Regions from separate parts of the Homo sapiens genome. Here region 2 is reported to be linked to region 1. The links are microRNA targets in miRTarBase. Many come from high-throughput screens and were not tested one by one. Region 1 holds a microRNA gene; the other region holds the end of a gene's coding sequence.

The links. Region 1 holds the annotated microRNA hsa-miR-3153 (GGGGAAAGCGAGUAGGGACAUUU, at 2,905-2,927, shown strand). A microRNA usually pairs through its seed, bases 2 to 8, with sites in the 3' UTR of a target mRNA and lowers its output. Matches are read on the target gene's strand: a 7mer-m8 pairs with bases 2 to 8, a 7mer-A1 pairs with bases 2 to 7 and ends in A, and an 8mer does both.
Region 2: the mRNA of METTL1 is a reported target of hsa-miR-3153. The part of its 3' UTR that is shown has no 7-base or 8-base seed match.

Annotation. Positions count from the first base shown.
Region 1 is chr9:89,309,370-89,313,434 of GRCh38, forward strand. MIR3153 (microRNA 3153) reads left to right here and starts at 2,856; the gene lies at 2,856-2,937. It overlaps CKS2 (CDC28 protein kinase regulatory subunit 2), which reads left to right and starts at 1,826. Exons shown (of 3, transcript NM_001827.3): 1 at 1,826-1,982. The coding sequence starts at 1,924. LOC105376136 (a long non-coding RNA gene) reads right to left here and starts at 1,433. Exons shown (of 3, transcript XR_930101.4): 1 at 1-1,433. RefSeq lists a silencer at 1,132-1,361 and enhancers at 1,372-1,661, 2,332-2,381.
Region 2 is chr12:57,765,644-57,769,708 of GRCh38, reverse strand. METTL1 (methyltransferase 1, tRNA methylguanosine) reads left to right here. Exons shown (of 6, transcript NM_005371.6): 4 at 31-144; 5 at 305-406; 6 at 558-1,238. The coding sequence ends at 713. It overlaps CYP27B1 (cytochrome P450 family 27 subfamily B member 1), which reads left to right and starts at 2,631. Exons shown (of 9, transcript NM_000785.4): 1 at 2,631-2,862; 2 at 3,512-3,702. The coding sequence starts at 2,668.

The DNA of each region.
Region 1 (4,065 bases):
CTCCTGTTTAAGATGAAGGTGCTCTGGTTCACTTGCCTCTGACGATCCCAGCACTTTGCGAGGCCAAGGCGGGCAGTTCACTTGAGGTCAGGAGTTCGAGACCAGCCTGGCCAAAATGATGAAAACCCGTTTCTACTAAAAATACAAAAACTAGCTGGGCCTGTAATCCCAGCTGCTCTGGAGGCTGAGGCAGAATGGCTTGAACCTGGGAGGGGGAGGTCGCAGTGAGCCAAGATCACACCACTGCACTCCAGCCTGAGCAGCAGAGTGAGACTGTCTCCAAAAAAAAAAAAGGGCGGGGGGTGGAATTCCAAACACCCTCTTCCCCCAAGAAGTGATTGTATTAGGAAGTTAGGAGGTGGGGCCTTCGGGAGGTAATCAAGATTAGATGGTCATGAGGGTGGGGCCCTCACCCATGGAGATTATAAATGTCCTTAGCCGGCCTGTCTCACTTGTTCAGAAACCGGAAAAGTCCGTGGTCTGCAGTGTGGAAAAGGGCACCCGGACCTCTTACTTCCAGCCTCTAGTCTGGAAACTTTGTCTAAGGTACCCCATCTACATTACTTAGTCACAGCCACCCTGAACCCACTAGCCTGTACTGCGCTGGAGCATTTCGCATAAAATGAAATTAACATAAAAATGACACGTGCTCGTTGTGGAAAAAATACCAAAAAGATCACTTTTAATTCTGTCATCTAAAAATAACCACCAGTTACATTTATAAATTTCTTCCAGTAACTTTTTTATATGAACATGTTTTTAAACTTGGGTCAATATTAAAAGACCAGAAGTTGTTAAACATCATTTTAAATCCCCTTATCCAGGAATTAGCATTGTTATTCTTGGCCGCAGCAGAATATTATTTTATTCCCTCAAGCTTTCCATGGCTTGGGTCTGCCCTGGTTTTGAACATTAGGTTAGGCTACAGAAAGCATTCTGGGTCTCTGGCCCATTTGTTTCTTTCTTTGTGGAGACGGGGTCTGGCTCTGTTGCTCAGGCCTGTCTGGAACTCCTGGGCTCAAGCGACACTCCACCTCGGCCTCCCGAGTGGCTGGGACCACTGGCGCCCGCCGCCACCGCGCCGGCTCCGGGCCTCTCTCTACGCGTGGCTCCGCAGGCTCCATTCTCCACACAGTCGTCTAGGGGGGCGCCAGGAGCCCCGCGACGGGCCAGGCCGGAAGCTCAGCAAGTGCACCAGGCGGCGAAACGGCCGGCTGCGCAGGGCAGCCCCGGACACAGCCACGCCGCGGCCGCCCGGCGCTCCCCCGACCCAGCCGACCACGAAGCCGCCCTCCCCCTCACACCGCAGAACCTTTCTGCCTTTTACTACTTTTCAAAGTGGACCTAGGCTCCTGGCTCGAGCCTGAGGGGATACAAGGGATCACGAGGAGCGCCATCACCGTGCAAGGTCGACAGCTTCCGCTCAAAGCCCTGTGGCCCACGCTTCCGGCCTCGACCGACTACGTCATCACCAAACCCCGTGATACCTCACTCCACCTTCAGGTCCTCCGTCCCAACGGTTCCGTGTCCTGGAACTTTCCACGTTCCTGCGCACGCGCTCTGCGGCCCTTAACGTCCCGACTTCGCCCTCCTCTGGCCACGCCCCTGCCCGTTAAGGGCCCTGCCACCCCCGTGACGTACCTATCTTCCCTCGGGCAACCTCGCAACAGATCTCTGATTGGCTGACCCAGGAAGCGGACTTTGCGAGGCGGCGGCGACGATAGGCTGGCAGCCGGCCGACTTCCGCAGAAGGTGATTGGTCGGCGCTGCTGTCCAATCGGCGGCGGGCTGTCGGATTCAAATCCGGATCGTTGGGACTGCGGTCGTTAGTCTCCGGCGAGTTGTTGCCTGGGCTGGACGTGGTTTTGTCTGCTGCGCCCGCTCTTCGCGCTCTCGTTTCATTTTCTGCAGCGCGCCAGCAGGATGGCCCACAAGCAGATCTACTACTCGGACAAGTACTTCGACGAACACTACGAGTACCGGTGGGCGCCTTTCTTAGACCCCGAGCCGGCTCCCTCAGCCGGGGCCCCCGCGGGCGGGGCGACCCAGGCATAGTAGGGTCGGGGGTGGGGGCCGGGGCCTGGGGGGCGGAGCCCGGGGCCGGAGGGCGAGGGCCGGGGTTTGGGGTCGCGGCCACCTGGCGCCCCGCGCAGTCGGACATGGTTGGGTGCCTGGCCGCGCCGGGCCGGTTGGGCCTTTGTTCGGTGTGCGCGGAGGGTGAGGGAAGAGTGCCCACCGGGCCGCATTTAGTACCTGGGTAGGAACCGGCGCAACTTGGGGGTCATGGGGTCCTCGGCGACGCGGAGTGACCATCCCGTCACTTTTTTCTCGGCCGTGGCCGAAGTAATTAGGCCGTTCAGTAGCTGGTCTCAGTTCCAGTTCTTTGAACCAGTCCAGGAAAACCCACCTGGTGCCGTCCTTTTTCCTTTAGCAACCGTGACACACTTTCCCTGTCGCTGACGGGGTGATGCAGCTTTTACTAGTTTGTGGTTTAGAATGGTCAAATGGTCATTTTCATCTGTTAACACAGAGGAACACTTTTCTTTTTCTTGTTTTTGAAGTGAGTGGTATAAGAATAAGCTTTGGAGGCGACCCCCCGAAAAATGAGCTTGATGGGGATTCGAAAATGTTTACTGGGTATGGTGATTTGGGCCATTATAGGTTAGCCGCAGTCATACAATTGAGGGTATTATTAAAGGAGTTTCATTTTAAGGCCGATTAAGAACTTGAGTGGACTTTGGGCATCATTTTCTGCTAGTATACACTGGCCAAATTTTGGGCTTTGAGAAACTTTTGCGTTTGAGTCCTGAAGCACCGTACTAGAACATGGTGGCTGTAATCGATCAGTAAAATTAGACAAATTTTAAATGTCCCTGTCCCCTTCCCCCCAATTAAAGTAGATTGGGGGAAAGCGAGTAGGGACATTTAAAATTTGTTGTCCTTACTGTATGCGGGACACTTCATTTAGGGCGTGGCTTCAGAAAACAGTCAACCCCTTTTTCTTAACTAGGTAGCGACTAGAACGCTGCGTTCTGGGATACTACCAAGATTTAGGGGAGATAAAGCCCATGCCATCGTTGGCCAAATTGTGACCTTGTTTTCTGTCTGCTGCCTTTGTAGGTTAGATTTCTCCGAATGCTATTTAAGGAAGAAAGAACAAAACAGTGGGTGGTTTCTCTTTTTCTCCCCCTCCCTAGTAGCATGGAAGTCTGTTTTCACATGAGGACTACTGAATATTTCTATGGGTAGTAGTAATTGCACCCTTTTGTATTCCTAGCTAGAAAAATAGCATGTTTTTCTGGCTGTAGGTAAATTTCAAGTAGATTGTGTTAACCTTATAGTAATAATAAACTATACTCGTGTAATATGCTGGCAGTGTTCAATTATGCGATGTTAATCAAGAGCCCTATTGAGGATATCCAATAATGAACACAATGTAAACCGTAATAATCTTACTAAAACCTAGAAAATTATTCTGAAACACATCTGGTGCCAAGTGTTTAGGATAAGGATTTAAGGGTCGGTACAAGTTTCTTTTAGGGTATAATATTGAAAATAAATGAAGCTATTTCTCAGACTTCTTTCTGATGGCAGTAGGTCGATTTTTTAGTTTTAATATACTCAAATGATTTGTGTGTGGTAATGTATAGAAGAAAGTTTACATATCTGAAGTGATGTATTTTAATCCAATAAAAATTAGAGCTGGTATTAATTGGCCAAGCCAGTAACCTTTATGAAACAGGATAGTAATTTCCACACATAATTTTAAAGGGGAAACTAGTAATAATATAGCACTAAGGCATGAGTCTAGGGTGGTTTGTATTAATATGTAATGGTGCAGCATGCAATGTAAATTTCAAAGGCTAGTATTTATTTTTCCCAGTGTGCAGTTATCTCTATCTTTCTTTGATTTTTCTTAATTACAAACTTAATTTCCTAGTCCTTTTACGTGAGGGTCTTAATGTTTCTAAGGGCATAACAGTGGGTGCCCCCACCCCCACATCATGGAAGTCTGTTTTCACAAGAGAAAAACTGTTAATTTTTCTGGGCAGCCTTACAAATTAG
Region 2 (4,065 bases), not on the chromosome of region 1:
CAACCCTGTTGGTGTGTGTCTGTCTCACAGCTGACAAAGATGTTCTTCCTCTTCCCCGACCCACATTTCAAGCGGACAAAGCACAAGTGGCGAATCATCAGTCCCACCCTGCTAGCAGAATATGCCTACGTGCTAAGAGTTGGGGTGAGTTGGGATCGGAGGGATGATGGGGTGAGTGGCCTACTCAGGGGCCCTTCACTAAGAATTCAGTGGGGGTGCATTTAGGGACTCACACCACCACTTCCTTCATCTGGCTGCTGACGTTGCATGCAGCCTCCTGTCTAGGGTGATTTTGCCTATGCAGGGGCTGGTGTATACCATAACCGATGTGCTGGAGCTACACGACTGGATGTGCACTCATTTCGAAGAGCACCCACTGTTTGAGCGTGTGCCTCTGGAGGACCTGGTGAGTAGGGGACCTAGAGGAGGTGGAGGCCCTTTCCAGAGTGGTTCTGTATTTGGACTTAACTCAGTGCCAGGAGGATGGGATAGGTGTCTAAGGGCCAGGGGCAGTCTGAACAGTGGGCAAGGACTTATTGGACCCTTCCTTCTCCCAGAGTGAAGACCCCGTTGTGGGACATCTAGGCACCTCAACTGAGGAGGGGAAGAAAGTTCTACGTAATGGAGGGAAGAATTTCCCAGCCATCTTCCGAAGAATACAAGATCCCGTCCTCCAGGCAGTGACCTCCCAAACCAGCCTGCCTGGTCACTGACTGCTTACTCTACCTTAGCTGGACCTCGTCTCCCAGGGATTAGAGAAAAGAGCAGGAGTCCTGGGTCTTCCCAGTTGAGACTGCTGGAGCTGAGACACAGTACTCTCTTAAAGAAGGTGGGGAGCTGCCCAGGGCAGAACCCACTGGTGTTCATGACTACCCCTGGCTCCTCTCACCTTGTCCCTCCACTGCCAACAGAAAACAAAGCAGCTGACTGAGATGGTCAAAGGACTTTGGACCATAGGGGATCTTTGGAAGGCTGTGGGGTCTTGCTCTTCCTTAGCACTCCTTTCTCCTTGTGAGATCTCTCCTCAGCTGGAATGAGGAATGTAGTCCATCTAAACTGCTTGCTAGGCTCAATTACCACTTCTGTTTGCTTTGTGGATCCTGGGATAACATGTATATGTGTACACATGCCTATTCTGCCATTTCTCAGGAAAGGGTGGAGTATGTATCATATGCCTTCTACCATCCTCCTGTCCTCTCCCTGCGTAAGACTTGACCTGGGGAATCTGTGTTCCCTAAGTGTTGTCTCTGGAGAGTCCTTGGGAAGGTGTGGGGGTGGAGACCCTCTCCTTTTTCACATTGACCTTCAATTCCAGAACTTCAGAGCTAGCTGACTGGCACAGAGCCTGATAGAGTTGCAGTGGGGAATGAGGGAGTAAGGAGCAGAGAGGTAAACTGTGGGAGATTCTTTTATTTTAATTTTTTTTAGAGACAGGCCCTCTCTCTGTTGCCTAGGCTGGAGTGCAGTGGTACAATCATAACTCACTGCAGCCTTGACCTCCCGGGCTCATGTAATCCACCTCAGCCTCTCAAGGCACTACAGGCATACGCCACCATGCCTGGCTAATTTTTGTATTTTTTGTAGAGACAGTTCCACTATGTTGCCCAGGCTGGTCTCAGACTCCTGAGCTCAAGCAGTCTGCCCACCTTAGCCTCCCAAAGTGTTGGGATTACAGTCATGAGCTGCCGTGCCCAGCCTAATTTTTAAACTTCTTCTGTAGAGACAGTCTTGCTATGTTGCTCAAGCTTGTCTCAACCTCCTGGCCTCATGCCATCCTCCTGCCTCAGCCTCCCAAAGTGCTGGGATTATAGGCATGAGCCACCACAGGATTCTGAGGCTAAAAGTAGAAAGGAGCTGCTAACCAGAAAGCCCCCCAGAGGAGACCGAGTCAGCTGGGGAATTAGAACATCCACATCCATTTAGCTCCTCTAACACCCCACAGACAATCTCTGAACTTAACTAATGTACAAAAAGTTTCATTTCTGCTTCTCAAGCCCCAAATTCCCATGTCTGGAAGGAGGGGGCTTGTATACCCAAGAGACCCCCTTATCCTCAAGAAAGAAAGATGGAGGTTCTAGGAGCCATTTTAGCCCATTAACCCACCTGCCATCTGCCCAGTATATGTTAGGTACAGGAGGAGGGGGAGGTGTGGCTAGTGCAGGAAAATAATGCAGAGAAGATACAACCCACTAAGCCAAGAATGTGGGGACAGTTACAGCTGTGCCTCCCCTGCTTCCCTTCCTGGAGGAGCTGAAAGATGGGGAATTCCTGAGGATGGGCCTAAAGGGGCTGGGCTCACTGGTAGAAGTGGGAATATCAGAGACTGACTAGTGTAGCTTGGTCACCTAGTCCCTACTAAAAAGCCTTATAGCCTTTCCTAGGATGAGACTTTGAGGCTCCTAGACAAAGGCACTCTCCCAGGAGGAAAATCTTAGGCCCTCCCTCCCATGAGGGTCATTGCAACATGAGACCCAAGGGAGTTGTGAAGTCAGCCCCAGCCCCGCCTACTGTTCCTGGGTGCTAATCCCCAGCACAGACCACTCAGGAGGAGGGATTGGCTGAGGAGCTTGGAGAGGGGGCGTCATCACCTCACCCAAAGGTTAAATAGGGGTTGAGATATGATGCTCAGGAGAAGCGCTTTCTTTCGCGAGCACCCTGAACCAGACCATGACCCAGACCCTCAAGTACGCCTCCAGAGTGTTCCATCGCGTCCGCTGGGCGCCCGAGTTGGGCGCCTCCCTAGGCTACCGAGAGTACCACTCAGCACGCCGGAGCTTGGCAGACATCCCAGGCCCCTCTACGCCCAGCTTTCTGGCCGAACTTTTCTGCAAGGGGGGGCTGTCGAGGCTACACGAGCTGCAGGTAGGAAGGGACGCCTTTCCCGAGACAGAGTGCTGGGGAAACTGGTTTTGACAGCGTCAGAAAGGACTGACTAGTGCAGAGCAAATGTGGGACAGCCAGAGAGAACGGATGCCCATGAAATAAGGAAAAGGCGAGTTGAGGCTGGGGGCGGTGTGGCTACACTCGGGCAGAGCCCGTCCCGACTCTTAGCAGAGGGCGCTGCGAAAGCGCCTTCTCGCTGTCCTGAGGTGTGGAGATCCTGCAGATAAAGTACAAGTGCGCGGGAGGGGGAGGCCGGAGTGGGCAGTACCCTCCGCCTGCTTGCGGCTTAAAGCTACATGGGTTCCTTTTCATTCACTGAGGACTCGTCCTGAGATGGACAGTCCAGACATGGAACTTTTAGAGATTTCTCCTCGACCGAGATGATCAGAGAGGTCCTGAATGTCTGCCTTGCACAAAGTTCCGGTTTTGCCCATCACACTCAAACTTTCTAGGGATGGGAAATGAGAGAGGAGGAGTTTGCAGTATCAAAGGCATACACTAGTTGGGCACCCGAGAAAGAGCAGAAGCTCCCTATTCCCAAGCCCAGTCAACGCCCTTGGCGTGGGCACAGGTCAAGCTGAAAGTCCCCGCCCAGGTATCCAAGTGTCCGCTGTGTCCGCTCCCCCAGGTGCAGGGCGCCGCGCACTTCGGGCCGGTGTGGCTAGCCAGCTTTGGGACAGTGCGCACCGTGTACGTGGCTGCCCCTGCACTCGTCGAGGAGCTGCTGCGACAGGAGGGACCCCGGCCCGAGCGCTGCAGCTTCTCGCCCTGGACGGAGCACCGCCGCTGCCGCCAGCGGGCTTGCGGACTGCTCACTGCGTGAGTCTTCTCTGCCCCCAGAAGCCCAGACGCCCTGCAGCGGCCCTCTCCTGCTGCGGGTCCCGAAACTATCAATCTGGGGGCATGGTGGGAGGTCGGCTGTCCCACTCTACCATTGGGCATCTTGGGGTTCCCATCCCAGTCTGCTTCACCCACACTCAGGTTGAGCCCCAACCTCACTCCCCGCCTACCTCCTTATCCTTTGAGGCCCGAATCCTGGGAACTGGGGGAACCGGAGGAATTGGGCTAGGGTACAAGGATCTGGATGGAATGAATGTAAGGTTCTGTGACTCAAGTTACCCGGGAACCCCGGCCCCTGAGGGCAGGAAATGAGTAAAGAGGAAGGGGGCTGGAAGACAGGCG